7 linked regions of the Homo sapiens genome follow. The protein of the gene in region 1 interacts with the protein of each later gene in a pairwise test. Each region holds a gene or a part of one and is shown in the gene's direction. Other genes may lie near its edges. The genes, in order: PYGM, ARID1B, INTS4, NIPSNAP2, IGBP1, PPP1R3B and CDC42BPB.

Region 1 (4,423 bases):
AGAAAACTGGAGCCTTCCGAAAGGAATTCACTCATCACACAGCAAGTTAGAGGGATCCTAAAACCAAACCAAATCTAGACACAGTGGCTCATGCCCGTAATCCCAGCACTTTAGAAGGCCGAGGTGACAGTATGGCTTGAGTTCAGGATTTCAAGACCAGCCTGGGCAACATAGAGAGACCCTGTCTCTACAAAAAATAAAAAAAATAGACTGGGGCAGTGGGTCATACCTGTAATCCCAGCACTTTGGGAGGCCAAGGTGAGCAGATTGCTTGAGCTCAGGAGTTCGAGACCAGCCTGGACAAGAGGGCGAAACCCCGTCTACAAAAAATACAAAAATTAGCCAGGCGTGATGGTGTGCGCCTGTAGTCCCAGCTACTCGGGTGGCTGAAGTGGGAGAACTGCTTGAGCCCAGGAGCCTGGGTGACAGAGCCAGACCTCGTCTCAAAAAAAAAATTTAAAAAATTAGCCAGGGTGCTGGTGCATGCCTGTAGTCCCAGCTACTCTGAGGCTTCAGTGGGAGGATCACTTGAGTCCAGGATTTAAAGGCTGCAGTGAGCTATGATTGTACAACTGCACTCCAGCCAGCCTGTGTGACAGAGTGAGACTGTTTCAAAAAGCAAAAAGACCAAAAACTGAAAACCTTAAAACCAAACCAGGTGTACAAATCCCAGTTTAGGCCGGGCGTGGTGACTTACACCTGTAATCTCAGCACTTTGGGAGGCCAAGGCAGGTGGATCACCTGAGGTCAGGAGTTCAAGACTAGCCTGACCAATATGGTGAAACCCAGTCTCTACTAAAAACACAAAAACATTAGCCGGGCATGGTGGCACGTGCCTGTAATCCCAGCCACTCAGGAGGCTGAAGCCAGAGAATCGCTTGAATCCAGGAGGTGGAGGTTACAGTGAGCCAAGATAGTGCCACTGCACTCCAGCCTGGGTAACAGAGTGAGGTCCCATCTCAAAAACAAACAAACAAAAAACAAATCCCAGTTCAGGCAATCTTCCTGCTGAAGCTTCAGGTCATCAGCCCCCAGATGGGCTGCAGATAAACCACTAGGCTTTCAGAACTGAGCATTTGTTTGTTGTCCTCCAGGTTAAGATGCAGTGGGGGCTGCTGGCAGTCCATGCCAGGTGCACGTGGCAACTGGCACAAGTGGCTGTGGCTGGAAGGCAGGAGACCTGGCTCCCTCTGGTGCTGCCAGCCTGGCTGTGTGCTCGGGGATGGGTCCCTTCCCTCTCTCTGTGTCAACTCCCACCCTGCACCAATCAGGGTGACTGAATGTGGGGAGGGAGGGCGATGCCCCTTAAAAGGGCTCGCTTAGAGGAGTGAATGTACCCCTGGCACCGTGGTAGCAGACAATTATTGATGTTTGCTAGTTATGGAAGGCGGGGCAGAATTAGTCACCGTGAATTAGCCCTGTGGTCAACCAGAGATGAGACCTTTGGATGGACTTGACCTCTGTGACCCCTTCAGCCTGGCCCTGGGTTCCCCCAGCCCTCTCATGAGTCCACAGTGTCCTCTAGCTTTTGCTCAGGCCAGGCTGGCCAGCCCAGCCCCCATTGCTGCAGAGTGGTCGCCAACAGAGCCCCTCCTGGGTTCCGGGCTTATCACCTGCCTCCTTCCATTTTCCTCACCACCGTCTGCCCAGGCAGGGCTTATGGGTGTCGGGGAGGTGTTGAGGGTGTCTTTGCTCTAGATGCGGTCCAGAGAGACTATGGGGTTTGCTCATGGTTACCCAGCTCATCGATGCTAGACAAGGACAAGAGCCTGGGTCTGCAGAGTGCAGGGATAAAGCCTTGAGTCCCAGCCCTGAGGGGAGGGAGGCAATTGCCAGGGCTGGCCAGCTCCTGACAGGATTGCCCCCCGCAGGTGGTACTGGCCATGCCCTACGATACGCCCGTGCCTGGCTATCGCAACAATGTTGTCAACACCATGCGCCTCTGGTCTGCCAAGGCTCCCAATGACTTCAACCTCAAGGACTGTGAGTTCATCCACTGGTAGCCAGCAACCCCAGCTTGCCCGCCGGCCACGCCCAGCGCAGGCCTTACCCTGTCCCCACTTTTGTCCCTCAGTCAATGTCGGTGGCTACATCCAGGCTGTGTTGGACCGAAACCTGGCGGAGAACATCTCTCGTGTCCTGTACCCCAATGATAATGTGCGTCACCCCCTGGGCTGGGGGCTGGAAGCCTGAGTCCTTGGCAGCAGGGGTCAGGGAGAGCTGGGGAAGGACACTTGCTGGTGCCCTAGTCACACCCAGGGCATATTGCTGGCCTTGTGCATCCTGTGCCCCCACCTCAAGTCTTTTGAGTGCAAGGACACCTGAGTCCTGAGGAAACTGGGTTAGCGAAGGGCACTTTGGAGGGGCTGTTCCCTGGCGACACCCACAACACACTCGGTTCTTGTACCCCTCTTCCTGACACTGTCTCTCGCCACTAGTTCTTGGTGGAGGAAAGGCCCCTGGGTCCCAGAGAGGGGGCCGGCTCAGGGCTCAGGGGTCCCGGTATGGGTGGGAGTCCCTCCTGGCCACACCCACCGCAGCTTTAGGCCATGCCCCCACCGCCCTGACTCACGCTGCCTCATGCTGTCCCCAGTTCTTCGAAGGGAAGGAGCTGCGGCTGAAGCAGGAGTATTTCGTGGTGGCTGCCACCCTCCAGGACATCATCCGTCGCTTCAAGTCTTCCAAGTTCGGCTGCCGTGATCCCGTGCGCACGAACTTCGATGCCTTCCCAGATAAGGTACCATGCGTGTGGAGGGCGACTCTGTGACCGGACAGTGTGTGCTAGGCCTCTCCCTCCAGCCTCGGCCTGCCTGCCCCATGTAATAGATAAGGGAGTGGAGACTGGGAGTGTGGGAGGGTCAGTTGTTCAGGATTCACAATCCACAGGCTCAGAACCTGGGCTTCCCTCCTCCTCCCGCCCCACTCCCCCCATTCCTCCCACCCCCATGAGCACCGGCCTGCCTCTGCCCACAGCCCAGTCACAGAACCGTGCTGGGCTCTCTGGGGGCCTCCAAATGGCATAGGGCAGTGACCATAGCATGGAATGTGGTTTGGAGCCCAGACTGACCCCTCCCCCTACCCCAGGTGGCCATCCAGCTCAATGACACCCACCCCTCCCTGGCCATCCCCGAGCTGATGAGGATCCTGGTGGACCTGGAACGGATGGACTGGGACAAGGTGGGCTTCAGGGCCCCTCTGCCCCATCTGATGCTCTCTGCCTCGGGGTTCCCTTCCCAGTTTGGGAGCGTGGGAGGATATGAATGGAGTGAAGGGATCAGAGCCTGAGGCCAGAGGGACCGTCCTGGAACCTGGCACTGCAGTGGGGGGGCCCACTGGGATGCGTAGTGTGTGAGGAGACCCACTGGGCTGAGGTCAGCATCCTGACTGCCCACCCCGTGTGCCAGGCGTGGGATGTGACAGTGAGGACCTGTGCCTACACCAACCACACGGTGCTGCCCGAGGCCCTGGAGCGCTGGCCGGTGCACCTCTTGGAGACGCTGCTGCCGCGGCACCTCCAGATCATCTACGAGATCAACCAGCGCTTCCTCAACGTGAGTCCGGAGGCTTGGGGGATGGTGTGGGGGTGAGGGGGGACACCCAGTCTGGGCCTGGGAGTCGGGGCGTCCAGCCAGGGCCCTGAGACTCTGGGGCAGTGGGGGCACTGGGCAGAGCTCTGGGGGTGTGGGGCTGGGGACTGGGGATGGGGGTTCCTGGGTCTGGTTCTAGCTCTGGGCTCTCTGGGCACAGCGGGTGGCGGCCGCATTCCCAGGGGACGTAGACCGGCTGCGGCGCATGTCGCTGGTGGAGGAGGGCGCAGTGAAGCGCATCAACATGGCACACCTGTGCATCGCGGGGTCGCACGCCGTCAACGGCGTGGCGCGCATCCACTCCGAGATCCTCAAGAAGACCATGTGAGCCCCGCTTTCCAGATCCCGCCCCTCTCTAGGCCCCACCCACTCCACGCCTCTGTCACACAGAAGCCCCGCCCTTCACCGACCACTCTCTGGTCTCTGGGCCCTGGCGCCTTTCACAGGTGGCGTCATTCTTACAAGCACAGCAGCCCCTTCCAGTGCCGCCCTGTCCTGAGATGACCTCCTCTTACACACAGCACCCCCAACCTTCCCCAGGTCTGCATTCCCTGCCCCAGGCCCCTTTCAGCAAGACACCAGGGTAGGGGCCCCAGGGCAGAGGCCTTCATTGTACAGGGGTGAGTGGTGACCCTCGTCCAACCTCATCCTGCAGCTTCAAAGACTTCTATGAGCTGGAGCCTCATAAGTTCCAGAATAAGACCAACGGCATCACCCCTCGGCGCTGGCTGGTTCTGTGTAACCCCGGGCTGGCAGAGGTCATTGCTGAGGTGAGAGGCCACCGTAGGGCCAGTAGAGTCAACATGGGTCCCTGCAGGGATCAGCTGGGTATGGTC
Region 2 (4,423 bases), on another chromosome or scaffold:
GACCAGTGCCGCTGCAGGAACCGCCCTTCGTGGTGTGGCTTTCCAGACATACAGGACTTTGCTGTTTTTAAAAAACTTTTCAGATCTGAGAACTCTTGCAAAAAATAAAAATTTTGAAAACTATATATATGTTATATAATTATAATAATTATATATAATAATATGTATATCATTTTTCATTTATTTAATTTTGCTGGAGCATATAGGCACAAGGAATTGCTTTTTTTCTTTTTTTGAGATGGAGTCTCGCTCTGTCTGGAATCCAGTGGTGCAATCTCGGCTCACTGCAACCTCTGCCTCCTGGGCTCAAGCGATTCTCCTGCCTCAGCCTCCCAAGCAGCTGGGACTACAGGCACCCGCCACCATGCCCAGCTAATTTTTGTATTTTTACTATAAGAGACGGGGTTTCACCATGTTGGCCAGGCTGGTCTTGAACTCCTGACCTCAGGTGATCCTCCTGCCTCAGCCTCCCAAAGTGCTGGGATTACAGGCGTGAGTCACTGCGCCTGGCCAGTGAATTGCATTATTAAACCAACTGATCTTAAACAGTTTTCAAGTAAAGTGGAAAACATCAGCATCTCACTGCCTCCCATCAGAGTCCCACCTACCCCGATTAAGCACTGGTCCCGGAGCATCCTGGGAAGCAAGCTTAATAACAGGTGTGGTCCCAGCCCTGTCCTCAGTGCTGGGACCAGTGGGGCTTTGGGGGAGCCACACCTGACCAGGCCAGAAGTCAGGGCAGGAGCCGTGGGATGGATGTTGGGTGACACGGGCCAGTCTGGGGAGCCGAGTCCTGTTCGGGGGCTTTTCTGTAAAATGAGGCCCAAGAAACCCTTTTACCCCAAGACCCTTTCAGGCCGGCCCCTGGATGCTGGCTTTCCTGTGAGAGGGTCCTTCTGCCTCCTGCTGTGGTCCTAGTGCAGCTCCCAGCCCGGGAGCCGTCTGCCTGTGTGGGAGTTGAACGCTGGCTGTCCCGGTGGCACAGCCTAAGGAGAGGAGGCTTTTTTTTTTCCACAGGAAGTTTCAAACACGTGAAAACAAACTTTGGATGCTCTCTCCTCAGTGTGTGACATGGTGTATATAATACTGAAATATTGAACATAAATTGTTAGTTCTCTGTTGTTATAGGAGCTTCCCATATTCATTTTGAAATGAACATTCTAGCAGGTAATAACTATTTTGCATAATTTCAGTGTGTGATTATACCTGTAAGAGCACATCAGGATGATTTGTCTTTCTGTGAATTCCAGAATTACAAACGCCATATGGACGGCATGTACGGGCCCCCAGCCAAGCGCCACGAGGGCGACATGTACAACATGCAGTACAGCAGCCAGCAGCAGGAGATGTACAACCAGTATGGAGGCTCCTACTCGGGCCCGGACCGCAGGCCCATCCAGGGCCAGTACCCGTATCCCTACAGCAGGGAGAGGATGCAGGGCCCGGGGCAGATCCAGACACACGGAATCCCGCCTCAGATGATGGGCGGCCCGCTGCAGTCGTCCTCCAGTGAGGGGCCTCAGCAGAATATGTGGGCAGCACGCAATGATATGCCTTATCCCTACCAGAACAGGCAGGGCCCTGGCGGCCCTACACAGGCGCCCCCTTACCCAGGCATGAACCGCACAGACGATATGATGGTACCCGATCAGAGGATAAATCATGAGAGCCAGTGGCCTTCTCACGTCAGCCAGCGTCAGCCTTATATGTCGTCCTCAGCCTCCATGCAGCCCATCACACGCCCACCACAGCCGTCCTACCAGACGCCACCGTCACTGCCAAATCACATCTCCAGGGCGCCCAGCCCAGCGTCCTTCCAGCGCTCCCTGGAGAACCGCATGTCTCCAAGCAAGTCTCCTTTTCTGCCGTCTATGAAGATGCAGAAGGTCATGCCCACGGTCCCCACATCCCAGGTCACCGGGCCACCACCCCAACCACCCCCAATCAGAAGGGAGATCACCTTTCCTCCTGGCTCAGTAGAAGCATCACAACCAGTCTTGAAACAAAGGCGAAAGATTACCTCCAAAGATATCGGTAAGAATTCCAAAGCTTTCATTCTGAAATGAATTCCAGTTGCAGTGTAGAATTTTAATTTTAGTAAAGATGCTGTTCCTGCTCATCTTAAAGGGATGAAAAAATTATGACTAGAAGTTATCAAGATGCGTTTTTATATAGGAGTAATATAGTTGGAGGCTGCTAATCTGAATTAAGAAATAGTGCCAGAAAGATTGGCCGGGCGCGGTGGCTCATGCCTGTAATACCAGCACTTTGGGAGGCCCAGGCGGGTGGATCACGAGGTCACGAGATCGAGACCATCCTGGATAACACGGTGAAATAAAATGGTAGTTTTACGTGTGAATGTTATTTGTGTGAAAGATTAGAGCTTCAAGTAAGAGATCAGGGAATCCTGAGTGGTTATATGCTGTATTTTGGGCTTAAAGATTTGAACTTAACCAAGCCACTTAATCACTACAATACGTGCCTAACAGACCCCCCCATGAGGCTAATGAAATGCTAAAGGTGACCTGAGAAAATCTGAAGGCAAGCCACTCTGTAATTTGGTGACAACATACAGTGAATTTCCGTGGGAAAAAGTTAAAGCTTGTATGTAATATGTAGATTGATAGATGGTATGACATAAAGAATATGCTATGCTGTGATACATAGAACTGATATCATCCAATGCACTGGTAGACTTGGGCCAAGAACCATGTCAATCGAATGCTGATGTTGCTTGTTTATCCTCTGTGGGATGTTCTGAATACTAATCAGAGGTCTGGACTATCTGGAAGTACACACAGGGTTTCTGCATTATTTTTGAAGTACTTTTAACACAGGAAGGAAGATAATAGATCTGAGTTATATTAGGAAAAATTACTCAAAAAATATCAAGAACAAATTGACTTAAAATCTTTTTCAGTGATTAGAAAATTAAAGATATTAATAATTTGAAAGACATCAATCACTGGACATTAAGGAGATGTAGATTGAGAGACCAGGGCAGGAGAATCACTTGAACTCAGGAATTCGAGACCACCCTTGGACAACCTAGCAAAACCTCGTCTCTACTAAAAAGAAAAAAAATTAGCCAAAAGTGAGATTCATTTCTGTAGTCCCAGCTATTCAGGAGGCTGAGGTAGGAGGATCACTTGAGCCCAGGAGATCAAGGCTTCAGCAGTGACTGTGCCACTGTATACACACACACACACACACATATTCCTTTATATATATCTATCCATTTATATATAATGCATGTGTATCTATATCCCTTTATATATATATATAGATAGATATAAATATAGATATATAGATATATATAGAATATGTGTGTGTGTGTATTTATATGGGGTTGCAGAGGGAGAGAAGGAGACACAGACACTGAGCACCATTTTATATATAGAAATATATACACACACACACACGTGTATTGTGTGTTTATGTGTGTATATGTATGTTTAAATAAATACATCTAAATTTTCTAAAAATCTCCCAGTGCGGGTTATATAGCATTTGTCTTCAACCTAGGGAAATTTACATGTTTATTTTTAAAAGTAATTTTGATTTTTTTATTGTAAAAACAGTATGTAGCTATCTTAGAAAATTTTAAAACAGATAAAATAAAAGTGGAAAAGCCACGGTGTCTCCCCCTCATGCAATGATTCTTGGTGCCTGGAGAATGCCCCCAGCCTCCAGGCAGCTCCAGGGATCTGGCCGAGCTGGGTCTCATGGCAAATCTTCCAAACTTTCTACCTGATCATTTTGTTTCCTTCAGTAGCAGGAATAGGGAAAACAACAAATTACTTCCCATTCTGTGGCTCCAGCCATACTCCTGAGAAATCTGAGCCATCAAAGTGCTAATATTTATCACAGCATGTTCTGAGGGCAGGAGCACAGGACTAGAGGAAAGCAGCCTGGGAAGCCAAGGCCGTGTGTCTGAGGAGGCTGTCTTGGAGTTAAATTTTGCTTCCATGTTCTGCATACTTGGCGGCCTTCCAGGACGCCACCTTGAGACACTCGTGAGTGGTGAAGCCAAAAGAAGACAAATACCACTTTTGGGTTTGACTCATTTATTAAAAGCTCTGATACCACATTGCAGACTCTGTAGGGTGGCTGAAAGAAATAACCCGGCCATGAGAAAGGACCATCTGTGCTCAACCACTCCACCTCCAGAAGCACTTTCGGCCCCTGCGTGACCAACAAAGCGAGATCTGAAACCACAAAAGTTTCTCGTTACAGCTATGGCCTCCATTTAAAATCGGAAATGATCACGCTTAACTGTCCTTGAGAGCATTTGTTTAAAGTCAATATTTAACTTAACACTCCACTTATTTTTTCTTACTCTTTCGTTAACTTTCGTTCTTTCATGCATAGAGTCAACATTCATGATATCCTTGTTCTTCCCCATCTTCAGTTACTCCTGAGG
Region 3 (4,423 bases), about 13 Mb from region 1:
TAAAATTCGAACAATGATATTTAGTCTACTTTAATCTTAATGATAACATTATTTACTAACTGACTTTTTAAAAAGTACTGTGGTCAGAATACTGAGATAAGTAAGACAATTTAATTTTCAAGAAGTTAATGTAGACAGACATGTGACTTCATCACATATATGTGGTGTCAGATTTAAGCCATAGTCCTTGTGATACTAAAGTCCATGTTCTTAGATCGACGTTAAGGTGGGTGGTATGTGAAACTGTGGGCATAGAGATCTCCCAGGGAGAGTTTATAGAATGAGAGGAGTAGAGAATAGAAGACAGCCTGAAGGAGAAGGAATCCATCTTGGACTTATCCCATGGCTCTTAATTTGATATGAGTTACTTTATATATATATATAAAATATGGGGCTTCAGTGTGTTGCTCAGGCCAGCCTTGAACTCCTGAGCTCAAATGATCCTCCCACCTCAGCTTCCTGAGTAGCTGGGACTTTGGTGTATGGCACTGCACCTGGCTGATGTGCAGTTTTTGTTTTTTTGTTTTTGGAGTTTTTTTTTTTTTTGAGACAGGGGCCCACTCTGTCACCAGGATGGAGTGTAGTGGCACGATCATGGCTCACTGCAGGCTCAAACTCCTGGGCACAAGTGATCTTCCTGCCTCAGCCTCCCAAGTAGATGGGACTATAGGCGTGTGCCACCACACTTGGCTAATTTGTTTTTTGTGTGTTTTGTTTTGAGATAGGGTCTCATTCTGTCACCAGGCTGGAGTGCAGTGGCATGACCTTGGCTAACTGTAATTTCTGCCTCCCAGGTTCAAGTGATCCTCCCTTCTCAGCCTCCCAAGTAGCTGAGACAACAGGCGCACGCTACCACACCCAGCTAATTTTTTAATATTTTTGGTAGAAACAGAGTTTTACCACATTGCATAGGCGGGCTCAAGTGATCTGCCTCCCTTGGCCTCCCAAAGTGCTGGGATTACAGGCGTGAGCCACTGTGCCCAGCCTGATGTGCAATTTCATTTGTTCTTTTTTCTAGAGGTTCGTATTGCTGCTGTGGAGGCCCTCTGCATGTTGGCCCAGTCTTCACCCTCTTTTGCTGAGAAGTGCCTTGATTTCCTAGTTGACATGTTCAACGATGAAATTGAGGAAGTACGTCTGCAGTCTATACATACCATGAGAAAAATCTCTAACAACATCACCCTCCGAGAAGATCAGCTTGACACTGTCCTGGCTGTGCTAGAGGTGAGTGTTTCTAATTTGTTACTCATTTCTTCATCCCTCACCCCCCCCTGTTAAAATCAGGTATTGTGCTAGGCATTGGTGACAGAACACTATATCAGGGAGCACAGTTCTGTTTTCTCACCATACCCCTTCCCTAAGATGGAAGAAATTGACTGTGAAACAGGAAATTTGAATAAGCTTGGTCTTTCTGTGATCAAGAAAGGATAGGATGCCTAGGGAATACATAGTGTCTAACCTGAATTGGCTGAGGTGAGGTTGGGAAGAAGGAGGAAGTGCTGTAGTGGACACTTGAAGGAGGAGTAGGACTTAACTAGGCTTTTTTTTGCCTTCTTCTTTTGAGACAGGGTCTCACTCTGTCACTCAGGCTGAAGTGCATCTTTTTTAAAGGAGAAGTGACACTGGTGGTAGGATGAAAGGGTACCAGACAGAGGGAGCAATGTCTAAAGATGCAGAGATAAGACAGAATATGATATATTCAAGGAACTAAAAAGAGTTTATTATAATGATAGTGTAGAGTTGAAGAGATGGAAGAGTGGAGGACGTGGCTATAGATAAGGTAGGGGCTAAATAATGAAGAGTTCTTTTCAACCTTTAATTTGATTTTATTCTTGTAGTGAATCATAGGCTGTTATAGCAGCAAGTGATCTTAGGGATTGATTCATTCTACCCTGGGAATTTTATAGAGAAAAAAATAAGTTGTTTGAGTTAGTGGCTGAACCAGAATGTAAACAGAGAGTTGCTTCCCAGGCCATACAGCTCTAGGTGGTTCTTGTATTATTTTTCTAAAATGTCTGGATTTTAATTGCAACTACTCAAGTTCTTCAGAGTATTCATAAATGGGGTTTGTCCTCTGGTTTCCTTTTTTGGGGAAGATGGGGTTCAGATGTGAAAGGGATAGTGATTAGGTGCTTAGTTTTTAGAACACTTGTAACAGATTTCTACTGCGTACTTTAAAGAATAGCTGGTGCTTTGGTTTTGAAGGTCCCTACCATTCTCTCAGCTGCTTAGCACTTCTACTGAGATTTTTCCTGAATTATAAATCTTTATAATTTTTTCATGTATTTTTTCCTAAAAATAAGTTTACATTCTATGTGCGGTTCTTCATGGGTGGCCTCATACATAGCCTAGCCACTCCTTTCCTTTTTAGCTTTCTTTTCCACCATTCCTCACCTTGAACTTTATGCTGAAGTCACTTTCCTACACATATTGCTTTTCCTCACAATTTTACCTTCAATGTAATTTTCCCCCACAGTTTGCAAAACTGCCACTTTAACCCAGGAGACGTCCACTTATTCCCACAGCCTATATTAGGTAACATATCCAGGAAGCCTTCCCTAACTGTTACTCCCAGCACTGGGTGGGCTAAATGCCACCACTCTATTCCCATAGCACCCTGTGTATACTGCTGTAGCATTTTTCAGTAATTCTCTATTTCATAAGACTGTGAGCTCCTCAAGGTGTCTTGACTTTTCTTTTCTTTTCCTTTCCTTTCCTTTTTCCTTTCCTTTCCTTTCCTTTTTTTTTTTTTTTGAGGCTGAGTCTCGCTCTGTTCCCCAGGGTGGAGTGCGGTGGTACGATCTTGGCTTACTGCAACCTTCACCTCCTGGGTTCAAGCAATTCTCCTGCCTCAGTCTCCCGAGCAGCTGGGATTACAGGCACGCACCACAATACTAATTTTTGTATATATTTTTTTTTTTAGTAGAGATCGTGTTTCACCATATTGGCCAGGCTGGTCTCGAACTCCTGACCTCAAGTGATCCACCCACCTTGGCCTCCCAAAGTGCTGGGATTATGGTGTGAGCCACCGTGCCCGGCTGACTCTTCATTTTTTTATTACCAATGTCTTGCAGCAGTGTCTGGCACAATTAGGTGCTCGGTAAGTGTTTGCTGAGTAGCTGAGCTATGTTCCAAGCTATGTTTTGATGTACAGAATTGTTCACAGGTATGCTTATTTGTGAGTACTTATGTATATAACTCACAAAGAATCCTTGCCTTTTAATTCTTTTCAGGAGTTCAGACCAATATAAACTTACAGTAGACTATTCTTCCACCCTGCTGTGTACTTCTCCCTTATATTTTCTGTGTCACTGGGCTTCATTGCTTTGAGCCTTACCTTGCTGACCCTTCCAGCTGGAATTTGCCTTTTTTTTTTCCTGCTATGTCAAGATCCTACCCTGCCTAGAAAAATTCACTTCTTTATTCAACAAGCACTGTCTATGTATTAGAAATATAGGGATATCAAAACAGGCAGGATCCCTGCTGTCATAAAACTTATATTCTAAAGAGAGGTGGAGTAAACAAACAAAATGATTTCAGATGGTGATAAATGTTTTGCAGAAGATAAACAGTATGATTGAGGAATGGGGAATTTCTCTGTAATTTGAGTGGTTAGTAAAGACTTTCTGAGGAGATGATGTTCAAGTTGAGTCTTGAATGATAAACAGAAGCTAGCTATGTGAAGACTGGGAGAATAACTTCAGGTAGAGGCAACAGCTAGTGGAAAGGCTCTAAAACACAAGTGAGCTTTGTTGTGTTTGCAGAATAGAGAGAAAGCCAGTAGGAGTGAACCACAGTGAGAAAGTAGAAATGTGGCATGAGATGAAGTCTGAGAGGGGATTAGGGACAGGTGGAGAGCCTTGTAGGCCATTTTAAGATGTCTGGATTTTATTCTAACATTATGGAAAACTGTTGCAGAATTTTATGGATAGGAGTGACATTTCGATTTGCCTCTCTTTTAATATTTCTCATTCTTGAAATCTTGAAATTCACTTCAGATAGATTGACTTTTTCCCTCACTCCTCCATTTAACACATACAGGTATACCTCTCTTTATTGGGCTTTGCAGATATTGTGTTTTTTTAATAAATTGAGAGATTGCGGCAACCATGCATTGAGCAAGTCTATCGGTGCCATTTTTCCAATAGCATGTGCTCACTTTATGTCTGTGTCACATTTTGGTAATTCTTGCAATATTTCAAACTTTTTCATTATTACATCTGTTACAGTGATCTGTGATCAGTGATCTTTGATGTTACTGTTGTAATTGTTTTGGGATGCCACAAACTGTGCCTGTATAAGATGGCAAACTTAATAAGTATGTGTGTTCTGAGTGTTCTGCTAACTGGCCATTCCCAGCCTCTCTCTTAGCCTTTCTTCTTAGCCTGTCCTTTTTCCTAGTTGCAAAAAGGCTCTTGTACCT
Region 4 (3,471 bases), on another chromosome or scaffold:
TAATTTTGCTCAGAATTTCCCCAGCCCAGTATATTACACACCTGAAGTAGTCCCTGAGAAAACTAGATGTCCAGGTGAAGCAAGACTTTAACGGATGTATGGGTGGAATGCAGTGTATGTGTTTTAAGTCTTACTTCTCTGTGTGGTTATTTTTAAGCTTACAGGGATCTTCAGACCAGGGAAGACATACGGAATGCAGCATGGCACAAACATGGCTGGGAGGAATTGGTATATTACACAGGTAATCTCTTAACAGCCATGAAATATGCTTTTTGTCTTACTGTTTCAATCATGTTCTTTCACCCTGACACTAATAGGTGGGTTTTGTAATAGTATGTTGCTAGGATAGTGAGTTATCAGGTTGTGGGGGGAAGGGAGATAGTCAATTTTTCTCTAATACTTACATGACTTTTTTTCAATAAAGTAGAATATCCATGCTTTCAAATAGGTATATCATCTGTTACAGTTTTCAGACCCTTGGATGTTGTAAATTTTACATCATTACCTGTTTTTGTAGATTTCTATATTCTCTGAAAACTTATTACACAAATAAAATTTTTTTCTAAGCTTTCCTTTTCCATCAGAATTGTTAGTATCCCAAATCAGAACTTAATACATCAATTAAAGAGTGATTTTGAAATTAGATAAATTAAACTTCCTGTATGTACAGTATGTATCTGGGTACATAATACATGCATGTGCACATACATAAGTATATTATGAAACCCTGTTTGCTTGATTTTTAAAAGAAAACAGTTGGCTGAATGTAACCCAGTGGCATTGGTAGAGGTAATCAGTACCAGCCATGTTGCATGGCAAGTATATTTCAGGCCGGGCGCAGTGGCTCACGCCTGTAATCCCAGCACTTTGGGAGGCTGAGGTGGGCAGATCACCTGAGGTCGGGAGTTCGAGACCAGCCTGACGAACATGATGAAACCTGTCTCCATTTGAGAGACTGAGGCAGGAGAATCGCTTGAACCTGGGAGGTGGAGATTGTGCCACTGCACTCCAGCCTGGGTGACAGAGCAAGAATCCGTCTCAAAAAAAAAAAAGTGTATCTCAGCCCCTATACTACCAAGAAAATAAAAGAGTAATTTGTCCTAGAAAGTAGGTGTTACCTTGTCTTTCAGTTCAAGAGATTATATAACATATAATTACATGTTATAATTATATAATTGTATTTGATTTTGCTGCTTACGCGAACGTTTGAGAAATCACCATTTCTCCTCACAGTATGGACTTTTCCTACCTCCCACAAATAAAACAAATATCCAGGTAGGATCTGTTTTTTTTTTTTTTTTTTTTTTTTTTGAGACGGAGTCTTGTTCTGTCGCCAGGCTGGAGTGCAGTGACGCGATCTCGGCTCACTGCAACCTCCGCCTCCCGGTTTCAAGCGATTCTCCCGCCTCAGCCTCCTGAGTAGCTGGGATTACAGGCAGGCGCCACCACACCCAGCTAAGTTTTGTATTTTTACTAGAGACAGGGTTTCACCCTGTTGGCCAGGATGGTCTCGATTTCCTGACCTCGTGATCCACCTGCCTCAGCCTCCCAAAGTGCTGGGATTACAGGTGATCTGCGCCCAGCTGATCTGTTGTAATTTTAATAGCATCTTGTAGGATGGCAGCTGATACAGGGTCCGCTTGTATATTTCTGCCCTTGAGGTTAGTCCTGTATATTATGATATTCTCTTGTTTTCAAGCAGCACATCTGTGAACATTCTCGGCAATCTGTCTGTTAGTGTCATTTACCATAATGTGTTTAGAAAGTAACAAGTGCAGTAACCCTGATCTTGTTTTCAGTTCCACTTATTCAGGAAATGGAATCCAGAATCATGATCCCACTGAAGACCTCGCCCCTCCAGTAAAGCTGTAGAGTTTCTATGTGCCTACATACATTTCTGTGACAAGTATTTGTCGTAAATTAATTTTAATTGTGTATCAAGTGAAAAAGAAACACTGAGGTTTTAAGCTGCTGTATATAGCTTGTGAGAAACCTCTTTTCTTTAAAATTTACATAATCACAAGAAAGGAAAGAATTACAGTTGGACTGATTGTGACAGTGCCTTGTCGTCCTCTTTGAAACACCCCGTGTTGTCCAGTATACCTTATAACACTGAGCCACTTCTCCCCACCCTCCAGAAGGGGTCCACGTTGAATTCTGAATCATCTTGAAAATAAGATTCCAACCACAAAAAAAATTTAGCCATTTCTTTACTAAAAAAAACCAAAAAACAAATCTGTTTTATAATCACAGATTTTTAGACAAATTTCTTGTATCAGGAAGAAATACAAATTTTGTCATGTTTCTCAAGCAGTTTTTCTGAGTAGTTTCTGAGGAGGAACAAATTACAAGTGTACCCAATAACTGAAAATGTTTTAACTCACTCTCATTTGTAAGCAGTCCACATAGTAGACAATGGGTTTTCCAAGCTGGGCAAGGTACATTTAATCAGTAAATCAGTTTCACATCATGTATTGTGATGTTTCAATGTGAGACACAAAAACAATGGCTTGAAACTTGTGTATCATATGTGATTTTGAAATGAACACCTTGAATAGCACTAATTTTTATTTGTGGTATTTTTCTATAACAAAACAAGTAGCTCTAGGAAAAGAGGTTTTATTTTGTAAACGATCATTTGTGACCTCAGACACTCTCTGGCTAATATTTTAATAAGCTCACAGCAGATAATTCTGAGATCATGGGTGAGGGGTGGTGCATGTTGAGATTTAAATTGGCATAAAGCTGCATACTTTTTGTCTAGCTGTTTGATTTCATTTTTTAATATAGTATGCCAATTTTGTGACTGTTACCATGTGAAAGTCCTGTTGAAATGAACAATTGTCTGCCCCACAATCAAGAATGTATGTGTAAAGTGTGAATAAATCTCATATCAAATGTCAAACTTTTACATGTGAATGATTTTCTCAAAGAACATAGAAAAGTCAATAAAATCCTCTTAATTTCCACATATCACGTTTGGATTTTCTTTTTTAATTTGTTCTGAGATTGACAAACATTGCTGTGAATGACCTTGTCACTCTTGCAAAATAGCTTGTCACAAAAGATTGAAGGAAGTGAGGAAGTCAGCTGGCTTCTGGGGAAAATCCCTCCATAGGAACAAATTACGAGGCCCTGGGCAAGGTCATGCCTGGTATGTGCTGAGGGCAGCAGAAGCCAGTGGCAGAAGCAGACATGAGGGAGAGTGTGGTGGGACACGAGCTCAGAGGTCACAGGGCTGGATCCCTTGAGTGTTGGAGGCCATTAGAAAGACCCTAGTGGCCGGGCCCAGTGGCTCACACCAGTAATTCCAACACTTTGGGAGGCCGAGGCCAGAGGATCCCTTGAACGCAGGAGTTTGAGACCAGCCTGGGCAACATGAATGAAACCTCATCTCTACAAAAAATCGAAAAATTAGTTGGGCATGGTAGCATGTGCCTGTAGTCCCAGCTACTCAGGAGGCTGAGGCAG
Region 5 (4,423 bases), on another chromosome or scaffold:
TTTGAGATCTATACTTTATGCCAGAAGAAAGAAGAAAATGGAATAGCAGGTATTTAAGAAACTCAGAGGGAAAAAAATGTGAGCCAAGGAACATTATACCTGGTAAAACTGACTTTCAAGTATAAAGAGTACAGATATTTATCAACATGCAGGAATTCAAGAAATATTGTTCCACCATCCCATGAATTTGCTAGAGAATGAGCTTCAGACAGCCAAAGTGTTGAGAGACATTGAAATAAGGACAGGTAGCAAGCGTTAAATGTACAGTTACTTGTAGAATTAAGATGAAATGAGGATTAAAAGGGAGATAGAGTATGTAATGCCTATGTGCCCAGATAATGTAGATAACTTTTTAAAAATGGAGAAATGGGGAAATCATGCAAAATTTTAACAGTTCTCAGTAATTATATTGGTGGAGTGTCAAAGTTAGTGTTATTATTCCAAGACTATGTATAATGTGAGATAATATAAATGAGCAGTTATTAGATAATCTAATTCTATCATCCTCTGTCTTTGAGAACTAGGACTTTTAATGTGAAAGAATACAGATGTAATTCCAAAGAATTTAGATTTTTTTTAAACCCTGTAGTACTCCATATGAACTCATGAGAAATTTTATTTAAAACTAAACACACACACACACCCACCCCTGCTTTTGCTCTATTCACTGAAAAGGCTTAGAAACAAGGACCAGCCCAGTAGCAATGAGTATACCTAGTAACTCCAATTGTGATACAGAAATATTCTTCCCAATATTCTTTCTTTTAAGAAATCAGGGTGTCTTAGAGAAATAACTGACTACAATTCTGGGGCAGGAAATATACAAATAAGCTTGGAACATCTTGTCATAAAAGATAGGGAAGGAGCTTTCAAAGACTACTGGGGTCATATCGAGCCAATTTAAAGATGTTTCCACTGGCCAATTCGGTTTCACAGAGGATAATTGACAGTAGCAACAAGTCCATCCAACACCCAAATCTTGGTTTCTAATACCATCCTCTAATAAATGAACCAGGGCTCCTTGGAGAAATAGCTGATTCTAGGGCTGAGGCAGGGAATATACAAGATGAACCTGGAGCATCTCGTAGTCAGATGATAGTCAACGTATGATGGGGTTATATCCTGGTAAAGCCATTCTAAGTTGAAAATATTGTTAAGTTGATAATGCATTTGCTATACCCAACCTACCCAACATCACAGCTTAGCCTAACCTACCTTCGACCTGCTCAGAACACTTACGTTAGTCCACAGTTGGGCAAAATCATCTAACACAAAGCCTATTTTATACTAAAATATTGAATATCTCAAAATATGAGGTATGGCTTTTACTGTATGCATGTCACTTTCACACCATCATAAACTTGAAAAATCTTAACTCAGGGCTCTCTGTACTAGAAAACAAGAGCTCAAAAAACTGTTGGGGTGTTAAAGGAACACAAGAGCCAGCTGCACCCTCACAGCCCAAAACTGGGAGAACTTGGGCAGGAAAGTAAATTTAACAGTATTGGATTATCACACTAGGAATAAAATGAATACACACAAGTCCATTGTGATAGAAATAAGTGGTTGAATAAGTAAATAAATGAGGGAGAAGAGATAAATCTCCCCTACAGAAAAATTTCAATTAATTTTATGTAGATACTCCTGCTTCAAGGAGGTGTAGCATGACTGTGTACCCCGAAAGTGTGGGCTGTGCTTAGTGACTTGCTTCCAGAGACTGCAATGTGGAAGGAGACAGGAGAAGTAACTTTAGTTGGAAACCTACAAATACCACTTTGGTCAGGTCATCGAGGTTATTATCAGTGTGAAGTCAGGTTGATAGCATATATAGTATTGTCCTCCAAAACCCATAACCCTAGTCTAATTCTGTAAAAAATAGGCAACCCAAACTGAGGGACATTCTACAAAATACCTGACAAGTACTCTTCAAAACTGTCCAGGTCATCAGAATGAAGGAAAGTCTGAGAAAGAGTTACATCCTAGAGGAGACTAAAGAAACAGACAACAAAATGTACTGTGGTGACCTGGATAGGATCCTGGAACGGAAAAGGGACATTAGGTAAAACCTAAGGACATTTGAGTAATGTATGCACTTTAGTTGTTAATAATATATTAGTATTGGTTCATTAGTTGTATCACAGAAACTGTATTAATGTAAGAGGTTGATGATAAGAAACTGGGTGTGGTTATGTAGGAACTCAGTACTATTTTCTCAATTTTTCTGTAAATTGAAAACTTCTAAAATTAAGAAGTTGATTTAAATAGTTTTTTAAAACAATAATTGTGGGCCGGGCGCGGTGGCTCACGCCTGTAATTCCAGCACTTTGGGAGGCTTAGGTGGGTGGATCACTTGAGGTCAGAAGTTCAAGACCAGCCTGGCCAATGTGATAAAACCCCATCTCTACTAAAAATGCAAAAAGTAGCCAGGCGTGGTGGCACATGCCTGTAATGCCAGCCACTCGGGAGGATGAGACAGGAGAATCGCTTGAGCCCAGGAGGCGGAGGTTGCAGTGAGCCAAGATCACACCACTGCACTCCAGCCTGGGTGACAGAGCAAGACTCCTTTGTCTCAAAAATAATAATAATAGTTGCAACTGGCTGAAACTCACCAGATATGTTTAAATCTCTAAGTTCATAATTATATATATATATTTTTATTTTTTTAGAGGTGGGTCTCACACTCTGAGCCCAGGCCAGGCTCAAGCAATCCTCCTGCCTCAGCCTCTCGAGTGAGTAGGACTACAGCCATGCACTACCATGCCTGGCAGATTTTAAAAGTTTTTTTCTTTTTTATAATTTTTTGAGCCAATATAAGTGTCATAAATATTTTTTTTGTAGACACAGGGTCTCGCCATCTTGCCCAGGATGATCTCGAACTCCTGGGTTCAAGCAGTCCTCCCACCTCAGCCTCTCAAAGTGCTGTGATTACAGGTGTGAGCCATCGTGCCCAGCCCATAATTATATTATAAAACAAGACCAAATTATTCAACCTCAGAGGCTAATAAGGGAACCCAATATCTTGAGAAATGGTAAATAAAGGGAAAGAGTCAAGTATTTTATCTTTTCTACTAGGTAACCAAATAGTAGTTGATGAGGGGAAGGCTCTCTTTGTAAAAGTATTCCAGTTAATTTTAAAAAGTTAAAATTAAGGGTATCACCTTTTTGAAACCCCCCAATAAATGAATGGGTCTCGGCATTGAGCATCAACAGCTCCTAACATTACAACGAGACAGAGATATTTACATGCCTCCTGATGAAGGAATGCAGCACCACCTATAATTATAATTCATGCTGAAGGGATCAAACTTGAGTCAAATCAAGCCTCTGTATTCAGCTGCCAATCTGCAGAAAATAAAGGAGGACATGTTAGACTGCATCATGAGTATGCAATCAGCAAAATCCAGTCTTTGGGAAACAAACTCTACAGGTCATATGCCCCAACTTCTTCAACAGATAACTTGAAAGAAAGGGGTGGAGGGGGAACCCATAGATTTAAAAAGATATCAAAACATTTTTAAATAGGCAAGGCTAACCTCAAAAATACGATGCTAGGCCAGGCGCAGTGGCTCACACCTGTAATCCCAGCACTTTGGGAGGCCGAGGCAGGCAGATCACTTGAGGTCAGGAGTTCGAGACCAGCGTGGCCAATGTGGTGAAACCCCATGTCTACTAAAAATACAAAAATTAGCTGAGTGTGGTGGCAGGCACCTTTAATCCCAGCTACTCGGGAGACTGAGGCAGGAGAATTACTTGAACCCGGGAGGTGGAGGTTGCAGTGAGCCAAGATCGCACCACTGCTCTCCAGCCTGGGAGACAGAGCAAGACTGTCTCAACAACAACAACAAAAAAAGGTGATGATGCTAAGTGAAAGAAGTCAGCCGCAAAAGATCACAGATTACATGATTTTGATTTCATGTGTATGAAATGTCCAGAATAGGCACATCTATGGAGACAGAAAGTTGATTCATGGTTCTAGGAGCTGGGGGCAGGGAGGGAAGGAATGGGAATTAACTGTAAATGGGCACAAGGGATCTTTTGGGGTTATAGAATTTTTTAAATTGGATTGTGGTGATAGTTGCACAACTCTGTACTAAAAAATACATTGAGTAAAAAAATGAATGTACAAATGGACAATTACAGTGTCTAGTGGTATGCACTTGGGTGATAAAGCTGTGATGAACTCTAGGAAGTTATTACTATAAAAAGCAGTATAGAGGTTACTTTTGCAGGGGAGGAGAGTTGATTTGTATAATGTACACAGAGAGGCTTTTAGGGTGGATACAGGAGATCTGTTTCTTGACCTGAGTGGAGGCTATAAGGCCTCCTTACAAAAATTTGTTTTATATGTACTTGTGTGGTTTCCACCATGTTTTATTTTATAGTAAAGGGTTTAAAAGAAAAGAACGAGGCAAGGTGGCTCACG
Region 6 (4,084 bases), on another chromosome or scaffold:
GGAAATTTCTTCTGAAGTATACCTACCTGTGAAACCCTCCATATCTGGGGCGCTCTGTGCCACGGGTGTCAGACTTTTGCAAAAGCCCTGTCATTCTAACGGGACGCCCTCCTGTAGGAAGTTGCCCCCTGGCGCCCGTCCTCCGGCTTCTGATGAAACGGCGACCCACCACCCCCTTCCCAGACCCTGGCCCGCAGCCGGATCACTCCGGGCGCGCTGCCGATCACGTGGCGAAGCGGTGCTCCCCAGCGCCGTGGCTGCGCGCCCATTGGTCGGCGGCTGGAGTCCCGGGCGCGCCCATTGGCTGCGGGGGGCGTTCACGTGGCAGGGGGCCTGGGATGGACCCCGGGGTCCCGAGAGCTGGCAGGAAAGTTAAAGGGGGCAGCGCGGCCGCGGGGAGCTCGAGTCCCGGGTGACTGCTGGAGGGAGGAGGTGACCGCGCAGCTCTCGTGCACGGACGGACTTCGCCGCCCGCGGGGGGCGCGAACCCGAGCCCGGGCCCAGCTCCTGCCGTCACGGCAGCTGTCCCTGTTCCCCCAGGGCGTATGCTGCCGCGGGCTGGCGCGTCTGCCCTCGGGACTTATGAGCTGAACCCGGTACGTAGCTCCCCAAGTCTCGAGTCCGAGGGAAGGGCTGGGGACAACAAGGCGAGGGCGTGCAGCGGGGACCTCTTTGGGTTCCTGTCACCTACATTTTCACCGTGCGACTTGCACTGGCACACCGGGGCTGGAACACTCTAGGTAGCTGGCCCCAGGGAGCTGTTGCTTCAGCGTGGAGAGGGCGATCCAGGGACCGCAGCTGGGAAGCGCCTCCCGGGCCCACGTGCTCCACCGCGCTGCTGGGCCCGGCTGCGACCGTGACCCGGGAGCTGCGGCTGCGGCGGCTGATCCCTTTACCACCTGTTGTTCTGGCTTCGAAACTAGCACAAGTTCCCAGCCCCGGGTCCCGAGAGGTCTGGAGACTTCTCCAAAGTTGGGTAGTGGGGTTTGGAGCTTAAGGACAAGCCGCTTCGTCTCTCTCCGGGCCTTATTTTCCCTATAAAACGCGAGGAAATACACTTGGTAGGCTCTCAGGCCACCGAGGGCGACGGGACCTAGCACGATCCCCGTCCCGGGCTGGCGGAGGCCAGGCGGCCGCGCGGGGGTGCTGGTGTCGCGCTGCTTGCTCCGGCCGGGGTTGCCCCTTTGCCGGCCCCGCCCGGGTGCGATAACGGGCTCCTCCTCCTCGTCGTCTTCCTCCCACCGCCGACATCTCCGGGAACCCAGCCCAGGCCCTGCCTCCCGGACACACCGACGCTCACGTAGTCGCGCTTGCCACAACCCTGCGGGCTCTCCGATGCGGCGAGCGAGCTGGGGAGGGGGCTTCTCCGCGGCCCAAAAGGTGGGTGCGGCGCGAGGCCAAGGAGGCTTGTAGGGAGGTTGGGGGCGGAGTGCAGCCCTGGTCAAACTGGACGGAGGGGACAGAGTCGGAGAGTAACTTGTGGGATCCTCCAGCCTGGAGAGCACTGGCCTGCTCCTGCGTCTCTTTGGAATCCAGAAAAAGGGGTGTGGAAGGCACAGTAGCTGCAAAAGAGGGAGTGGGGGCCGGTAATGACTTACTGGAAGATTTGGGGCCTGTCAGAGCACTGTTTTCTGAAAAAGAGGAGAAAACAGAGGAAAGACTGGACTTGGGAACTTGGAGACTTGGAAGGTGTTGGAACCTGTGGTCTGAGTGGCGGGGGCCTGCCTGGGAGACCCAGGGTGCAGCAGAAGAGACAATTAGAGCTTTGGTCTGGGAGGAAGAGGAGGAGAGGAGGAAATGTTTCCTTGGGCAGAGTTGTCCAGGAGCCAAAACTAAAGTGAAGACAGCTGGAGGACTTACACAAAAGTACAGTTGAGGTATTTAGGAAAAAAAGTTAGTGGGAAGAGAAGCGGCACCAGGGGTGGGTCGCAACATACAATGTCAGGGCCAGCAGGGACCTTGGAGGGGACCTCAAGCCCAGAGCAGCTGAGTGACTCGCTCAAGTAGCAAAGCAAGGTGCGGGCATTCTTAGCCTAGTACTCTGTTTTCCCTCGTACGTTTTTAGACGGCAGGGGCTGTGTCATTTGAACTTGCCTCTTTCCTAGAATATGCAACTGTATTCACAAATGTCAGTCTCCAAGATGCTTTGGATGATGGGGACAGGATCAAGGGGTACAAGGAGCCTTTAAGGCTGTGAATAGGCCCCCATGGTCTGAGTACAAAGGGGAAAGACATGCACTCTCTTCATGCTGGATCAGTGAAACCTTTTGGAAGGGAACACAGAATTGTTGGAGGGAGGTAGATGGCCATGTCTTTAAAAATGAAAATTATAACCTGGTTGTGAATGTTTACTGAATGCAGTTCGGCAGCTTTCAGTGTTCCTGGTGGGTTGCTTGTGCATCTGATTTTTTTGTTTGTTTGGTTTTGTTTGTTTGTTTTGAGACGGAGTGTCGCTCTGTCGCCCAGGCTGGAGTGCAGTGGCGCCATCTCTGGCTCATTGTAAGCTCCGCCTCCCGGGTTCACGCCATTCTCCTGCCTCGGCCTCCTGAGTAGCTGGGACTACAGGCGCCCGCCACCACGCCCAGCTAATTTTTATTTGTATTTTTAGTAGAGACGGGGTTTCACCGTGTTAGCCAGGATGGTGTCGATCTCCTGACCTCGTGATCTGCCCGCCTCGGCCTCCCAAAGTGCTGGGATTACAGGCGTGAGCCACCACGCCCGGCCTTTTTTTGCCTTTTTTTTTTTTTTTTGAGACGTAGTTTCGCTCTGTCGCCCAGGCTGGACTGCAGTGGCGCCATCTCGGCTCACTGCAAGCTCCGCCTCCCGGGTTCGCGCCATTCTCCTGCCTCGGCCTCCTGAGTAGCTGGGACTACAGGCGCCCGCCGCCACGCCCGGCTAATTTTTTTTTTTTGTATTTTTAGTAGAGACGGGGTTTCACCGTGTTCGCCAGGATGGTCTCGATCTCCTGATCTCGTGATCCGCCCGCCTCGGCCTCCCAAAGTGCTGGGATTACAGGCGTGAGCCACCACGCCCGGCCTTTTTGTCTTTTCTTACCAGAAGAAAGAGAGAGAGAGAATAAGAGAATGGAGGGGATAATGTCGTGGCCCTGATACAAAAAAGATTTCCTCCCTATGAAAGGTACAGCCAGAAAGTCAGTAGTTCAGCTGCCTGAAACCGTGAAGGTCATAGGGTTATTTTCTGTGCAGGTCTATAGTTATCACCATGGCCGTCTAACCTTGGCCAGCTGTCTTGAGAAGGTGTGTTATGAGTGGAACAGATAAAGCATTTATGCAAAACTATCTCCATGATCTGTTAGGGTTTGCCCTGTCTTAGCCATGAACACTGTAATCTACCCTCAAGCATGGCCCAGTCTCTCACCAGAGAAACTGATCCCTGAGCTCTGAGGCATCTCTATGGAAGCAAGTGTTTGAGAATTCATACCTACCTGGGAGCAGCACTCATACACTCATTCCTATCCTGCAACTGGTATCAGATCCTGAGTCCTGCTCTCATGGTTCAAATGTATGTCCATAACTTCTGGTTCTTTTTTTTTCCCCCTTGGCCAACTTTGGTGACTCATATTCCCTGGCCTGGGAAAAGGACAGAGCTGGAGCAGCCAGAGAGTCTGTCAGGAGAGGAGGCTGGGCTGCAGCCTGGTGCTTCCTGTGTTGGAACCGATCATTTTCATGTCATTTGTAAAAGAAGCACCTGTCCAGGTGCCTTCTTTTCAGGAACTTAATATTACCTTGCACATCTCAGTTGCTAGGAGTACTTCTGCATGGCGGCAGCCATCCCTGTCACAGTCCGCTGGGGAGTTCCTGAGCAGTTCAGGAAAGCCTACACCAAACCAGCACTTTGGTGTGCTGATTCTTGGAGAATGACCTGGTAAATAAAATCTGGAAGCTATCTGTGGGACAGGCAAGGTGACTGACAGTCGAGTCATACCCCAGATTGAGGCCACACAGGTTAATGTCCTCACCTGCAGTTATGGTGACACACAAAGTGAAGGGATTCTAGACTGGGGTTGCTTGTGCAATGTCCCTGGGGTAGTAGTCCTGCGGGTAACTCTTGAGCCATCATAACC
Region 7 (4,423 bases), on another chromosome or scaffold:
TCCCAAAACCCATAACATAATACCTATTAGTCCTTGACCACGTTTGTTTTTTTCTTAGATTCTTAGTGTTATGGGATGACGGTATGTTATGGTTACCTTAAATTTGTGTGAGAAGCTCACAGAAAGCCTCTCTTGCTAATGAGAATGGATGAGAGGAAACACCCTCTCCTTAAATCTAAAATCAGAAGTGTTTTGGCAATGTGAACTGCGTGTAGTAATCTCCCGCCCCCCCGCCCCAAATACACTAGCCACTAACTGGGAGATAAAGGTCAAGTTTCAGTTTGATTTTAAACAATCTGTGTTGGGGGTTAGGTTTTTGGTTAGTTTTATTGATTGGTAGGTAACAGTGGCAACAAAATTGTTTTTTGATTAAAACTGCAAAAAATCGATGTGTAATAGAGAACTTCTTTGGATTTTTGTTTTTCTTAGGAATTAGAAATTCAAACATAAATTTGAATGGAATGATATAATTTCATTCAAATTCGGTCCTTGGATTGGAGAGTCTTTGGAGAACATTTGGGACCTATTGTAAGGTGATTCCCAGTGTTAATTTAGGTGATGATTTCCCTGACCTCCAAAATTGCAGAGTCATAGGTTGGAAAACTGTTAAGAATTTTTTTTTTTCCCCCCAAGACAGGGTCTTGCTCTGTTACCCAGGCTGGAGTGTAGTGGCTCTGTCATGTCTCACTGCAGCCTTGACTTCCCAGGCTCAGGCAGTCCTCCAGCCTCAGCCTCCTGAATAGCTGGGACAATAGGCATACACCGCTACACCTGGCTAATTTTTTATTTTTTGTGGAAACGAGGTCTTGCTGTGTTGCCCAGGGTGGAATTGAACTCAGGCTCAAGTAATCCTCCTACCTTGGCCTCCCAAATGTTGGGATTATAAGTGTGAGCCACTGCGCTCCGCTATGTTAGGAATTTGGGGAGGTCATGTTAACCTGCCCTCCAGCCCACTCCCCACTCAGGTTGGGTAAACCAGGTTCTGAGCATTTTCCCTAACCGTTTCTGGGCAAACAGCCCTCTAACCAGCATTTCTGTCCTTCACAGGACTGCGGTCAGCCTCAGGCCTCCTTGCAGGTGCCTGCTTTGAAATATCTTTATTTTATTTTAGCCTTTTCTTTCTATTCTCATTGTCAGGGACCTAGGTAAAGCTCTCAGGTCCTCAGGCCTAAATGAATGCCTTTCCCACTTGAAGTTTTAAATACCTCTGCCAGATCAGTCTCAAACTCTCTTCATCACTCTGCCTTTCCAAAACTACAATGCCTTCATATTCTGTTGCCTTTAAAATAAAAAGTCTGATATCCACAATTCAGTATTAGAATTTGAAATTGACCCCAAAAGACGCATCTAATCTTAGCTTTAGAAGTTAAGGTTATGGCCGGGTGTGTTGGCTCATGCCTGTAATCCCAGCACTTTGGGAGGCCGAGACGGGTGGATCACAAGGTCAGTAGTTCAAGACCAGCCTGGCCAACATGGTGAAACCCCGTCTCTACTAAAAATACAAAAATTAGCCGGGCTGGTGGCGCACGCCTGTAATCCCAGCTACTCAGGAGGCTGAGGCAGGAGAATCACTTAAACCCGGGAGGCGGAGGTTGCAGTGAGCCGAGATTGTGCCATTGCTCTCCAGCGTGGGCAACAAGAGCAAAATTTTGTCTCAAATAAATAAAAAAAGTTAAGGTTAACAGCACTTCCCACCATGCCCCATGGGGTGATTTTCTTTTAACATCATTTAACTTTTATCAATGTAATGCATTTACTTAGTTTTGGAAACTAAGCGGTACTACTGGGTTGTAGTGCAAGACAGCAGTCCCTCTACCAGTCGCTTGCTCCGCGCTCCAACTTCCCACAGACTACCACTTTTAACTGCTCTGTTTCTACTTATCATTTTAGTTAGGATCACATTTAGCTGCCAGTAATGGAGAACAAAGTGACAGTGACTTAAATAAAATCAGGTTGATTTCTCTCACGTGAAGTTGACGTGTCAGCAGTCAGTGCTAGTTGGACAGCCTTGCTCCAAGAGGCCTCCGGGGCTGTGGCCTTTTCCCACCCTCAGGCCACCATCTGAGACGGTGGCCATCCCACCCTCCTTCAGCCAAGCAGGCCGGGGGTGGGATGTTACTATAGAAGATCCTTGGATATTGGTGGGTGCTTAGCAATGCCTGCCTTAAATTTCATATTTCTGTGTAGCATGCTGGTACTGCTAATTTCTGATTTTACCATTTTAGACATTGCTGACTTCTGCTGTAGAAGAGGCCTTAGAACTGTTCTACATTGTCCCTCCACTGCCTGAAACACATTCACCCCTTGCTCTTTTTCTGTGTTCCAAATATGTTTATATAATTTTGTTTAAATTGGTAATTCAGTGTCTGCATTCTTATTGTTAGGTAACTGTCTTCACAGCTAAGCCATGTAAGATACAGTTTACTAAGGGAAATAGTTTTGTGTTATTGGAGTGAATTTTCTTTATTTTCTTTTCTTATAATAATCCCATGGAGTAAATTTTTTTTTTTTTGGAGATGGAGGCTCATTCTGTTGCCCAGGCTGGAGTGCAGTGGCATGATCTTGGCTCACTGCAGCCTCCGCCTCCCGGGTTCAAGTGATTCTCCTGCCTCAGTCTCCCGAGTAGCTGGGATTACAGGCACCCACCATCACACCTGGCTAATTTTTTTTTTTTTTTTTGAGACGGAGTCTTGCTCTGTCGCCCAGGCTGGAGTGCAGTGGCCCGATCTCGGCTCACTGCAGGCTCCGCCTCCTGGGTTCACACCATTCTGTCTGAGCCTCTCGAGTAGCTGGGACTACAGGCGCCCGCCACCATGCCTGGCTAATTTTTTTTTTTTTTTTTTTTTTTTTTTTTGTATTTTTAGTAGAAACAGGGTTTCACCGTGTTAGCCAGGATGGTCTCCATCTCCTGACCTCGTGATCCACCTGCCTCATCCTCCCAGAGTGCTGGGATTATAGGCGTGAGCTACCGCGCCCAGCCATGCCTGGCTAATTTTTGTGTTTTTAGTACAGATGGGGTTTCACCATGTTGGCCAGGCTGATCTTGAACTCCTGACCTCAAGCAGTCCGCCCGCATTGGCCTCCTGAAGTGCTAGGATTACAGGAGTGAGCCACCGCTCCCGGCCGAATTTTCTTTAGCTTGGTTTTCAATGTACAGTCATGAATTTAGTGCCAGGCTTTTAACTAGAACTCCTCCATTAAACACCTCACATAATCTTATCACCTTCATCCCTTCCAGGCCTGCCACTTTTCTGTTTCAGCCTGGGCCGGGTGTCCTGCGGGCCTGCTACTGAGCAGTCCTCCTTGGAGTGCTTTTCATTCCTTGCAGGGATTCTTCGTGTCTCTTTCCTCTGTTGAATTCCCCTTTCTGGATTCTGTGTCTTTCATCTTTTGGTGGAGTGAATCTTCTAGTAGCTTCCTGAGAAAGAATTCATCGGAGGTGAATTTTTTGAACCAGGTCTGTCTGAAAATGCTTTTTTTTTTGGACACAGAGTCTTGCTCTGTTGCCCAGGCTGGAGTGCAGTGGTGCAATCTTGGCTCACTGCAACCTCCACCTCCCGGTTCAAGCAGTTCTCCTGCCTCAGCCTCCCGAGTAGCTGGGACTGCAGGTGCACACCACCACACCCAGCTAATTTTTTGTATTTTAGTAGAGACAGGGTTTCACCATGTTGCCCAGACTGGTCTCGAACTCCTGAGCTCAGGGAATCTGCCCGCTTCGGCCTCCCCAAGTGTCAGGATTACAGGCATGAGTCACCATGCCTGGCTGAAAATGCCCTTTCTTCCCTCACATTTGAATGGCACTTTGCCTGCGTACAGAATTCTAGGTTGGAAGTCATTGTTCCTCAGAAGTTTGAAAGCATGGAGGCATTGCTGTCTACACTGAGAGTGTTGGTAATGAGAAGTCGGAGACCACGATGGTTTCCAAGTCTCTGTGTGGGACTTTTCTTTTGTAAAATCTCTGGAAGCTTTCAGGGAACTCTTGTTTATCTCTAATGTTCTTTGGTGGGTCTTTTTGATTGGGACGCTTGGGTCCTTCAGCTCTGGGGAACTTTTGTTGATAATACTGTAGTTTTAATGTTTGTTCTAATTTTTTTTTTTTTTTTTTTTGAGAGTATTACTCTGTTGCCCTGGCTGGAGTGCAGTGGCGTGATCTGAGCTCACAGGAACCTCCGCCTCCCAGGTTCAAGTGATTCTCCTGCCTCAGCCTCCCAAGTAGCTGGGATTACAGGCGTCCACCACCAAGCCCAGCTAATTTTTGTATTTTCAGTAGAGATGGGATTTCACCATGTTGGCCAAGCTGTTCTCGAACTCCTTACCTCGTGATCCACCCGCCTTGGCCTCCCAGAGTGCTTGGGATTATAGGCATGAGCTGCCGCGCCCAGCCAAGAACACTTAAAAATGAAAGATACAGTGTCAGAAACAA

What was found.
Region 2: the proteins of PYGM (region 1) and ARID1B interact in a two-hybrid assay, tested with the Homo sapiens proteins (one large-scale study listed by BioGRID and IntAct).
Region 3: the proteins of PYGM (region 1) and INTS4 interact in a two-hybrid assay, tested with the Homo sapiens proteins (one large-scale study listed by BioGRID and IntAct).
Region 4: the proteins of PYGM (region 1) and NIPSNAP2 interact in a two-hybrid assay, tested with the Homo sapiens proteins (one large-scale study listed by BioGRID and IntAct).
Region 5: the proteins of PYGM (region 1) and IGBP1 interact in a two-hybrid assay, tested with the Homo sapiens proteins (one large-scale study listed by BioGRID and IntAct).
Region 6: the proteins of PYGM (region 1) and PPP1R3B interact in a two-hybrid assay, tested with the Homo sapiens proteins (one large-scale study listed by BioGRID and IntAct).
Region 7: the proteins of PYGM (region 1) and CDC42BPB interact in a two-hybrid assay, tested with the Homo sapiens proteins (one large-scale study listed by BioGRID and IntAct).

Annotation. Positions count from the first base shown.
Region 1 is NC_000011.10:64,753,007-64,757,429, reverse strand, and holds part of PYGM (glycogen phosphorylase, muscle form), read left to right. Parts: intron 1-1,871; coding exon 1,872-1,983; intron 1,984-2,074; coding exon 2,075-2,157; intron 2,158-2,593; coding exon 2,594-2,737; intron 2,738-3,084; coding exon 3,085-3,177; intron 3,178-3,404; coding exon 3,405-3,551; intron 3,552-3,747; coding exon 3,748-3,911; intron 3,912-4,242; coding exon 4,243-4,357; intron 4,358-4,423. UniProt on the Homo sapiens protein: Allosteric enzyme that catalyzes the rate-limiting step in glycogen catabolism, the phosphorolytic cleavage of glycogen to produce glucose-1-phosphate, and plays a central role in maintaining cellular and organismal glucose homeostasis.
Region 2 is NC_000006.12:157,199,455-157,203,877, forward strand, and holds part of ARID1B (AT-rich interactive domain-containing protein 1B), read left to right. Parts: intron 1-1,250; coding exon 1,251-2,034; intron 2,035-4,411; coding exon 4,412-4,423. UniProt on the Homo sapiens protein: Involved in transcriptional activation and repression of select genes by chromatin remodeling (alteration of DNA-nucleosome topology).
Region 3 is NC_000011.10:77,925,143-77,929,565, reverse strand, and holds part of INTS4 (integrator complex subunit 4), read left to right. Parts: intron 1-1,018; coding exon 1,019-1,224; intron 1,225-4,423. UniProt on the Homo sapiens protein: Component of the integrator complex, a multiprotein complex that terminates RNA polymerase II (Pol II) transcription in the promoter-proximal region of genes.
Region 4 is NC_000007.14:55,997,209-56,000,679, forward strand, and holds the end of NIPSNAP2 (protein NipSnap homolog 2), read left to right. Parts: intron 1-157; coding exon 158-241; intron 242-1,799; coding exon 1,800-1,864; 3' UTR 1,865-2,971; downstream 2,972-3,471. UniProt on the Homo sapiens protein: Protein involved in mitophagy by facilitating recruitment of the autophagy machinery required for clearance of damaged mitochondria.
Region 5 is NC_000023.11:70,160,406-70,164,828, forward strand, and holds part of IGBP1 (immunoglobulin-binding protein 1), read left to right. Parts: exon of another isoform or gene 1-2,059; intron 2,060-4,423. UniProt on the Homo sapiens protein: Associated to surface IgM-receptor; may be involved in signal transduction.
Region 6 is NC_000008.11:9,147,859-9,151,942, reverse strand, and holds the start of PPP1R3B (protein phosphatase 1 regulatory subunit 3B), read left to right. Parts: upstream 1-1,284; 5' UTR 1,285-1,380; intron 1,381-4,084. UniProt on the Homo sapiens protein: Acts as a glycogen-targeting subunit for phosphatase PP1. Facilitates interaction of the PP1 with enzymes of the glycogen metabolism and regulates its activity.
Region 7 is NC_000014.9:103,046,964-103,051,386, reverse strand, and holds part of CDC42BPB (serine/threonine-protein kinase MRCK beta), read left to right. Parts: intron 1-4,423. UniProt on the Homo sapiens protein: Serine/threonine-protein kinase which is an important downstream effector of CDC42 and plays a role in the regulation of cytoskeleton reorganization and cell migration. Regulates actin cytoskeletal reorganization via phosphorylation of PPP1R12C and MYL9/MLC2.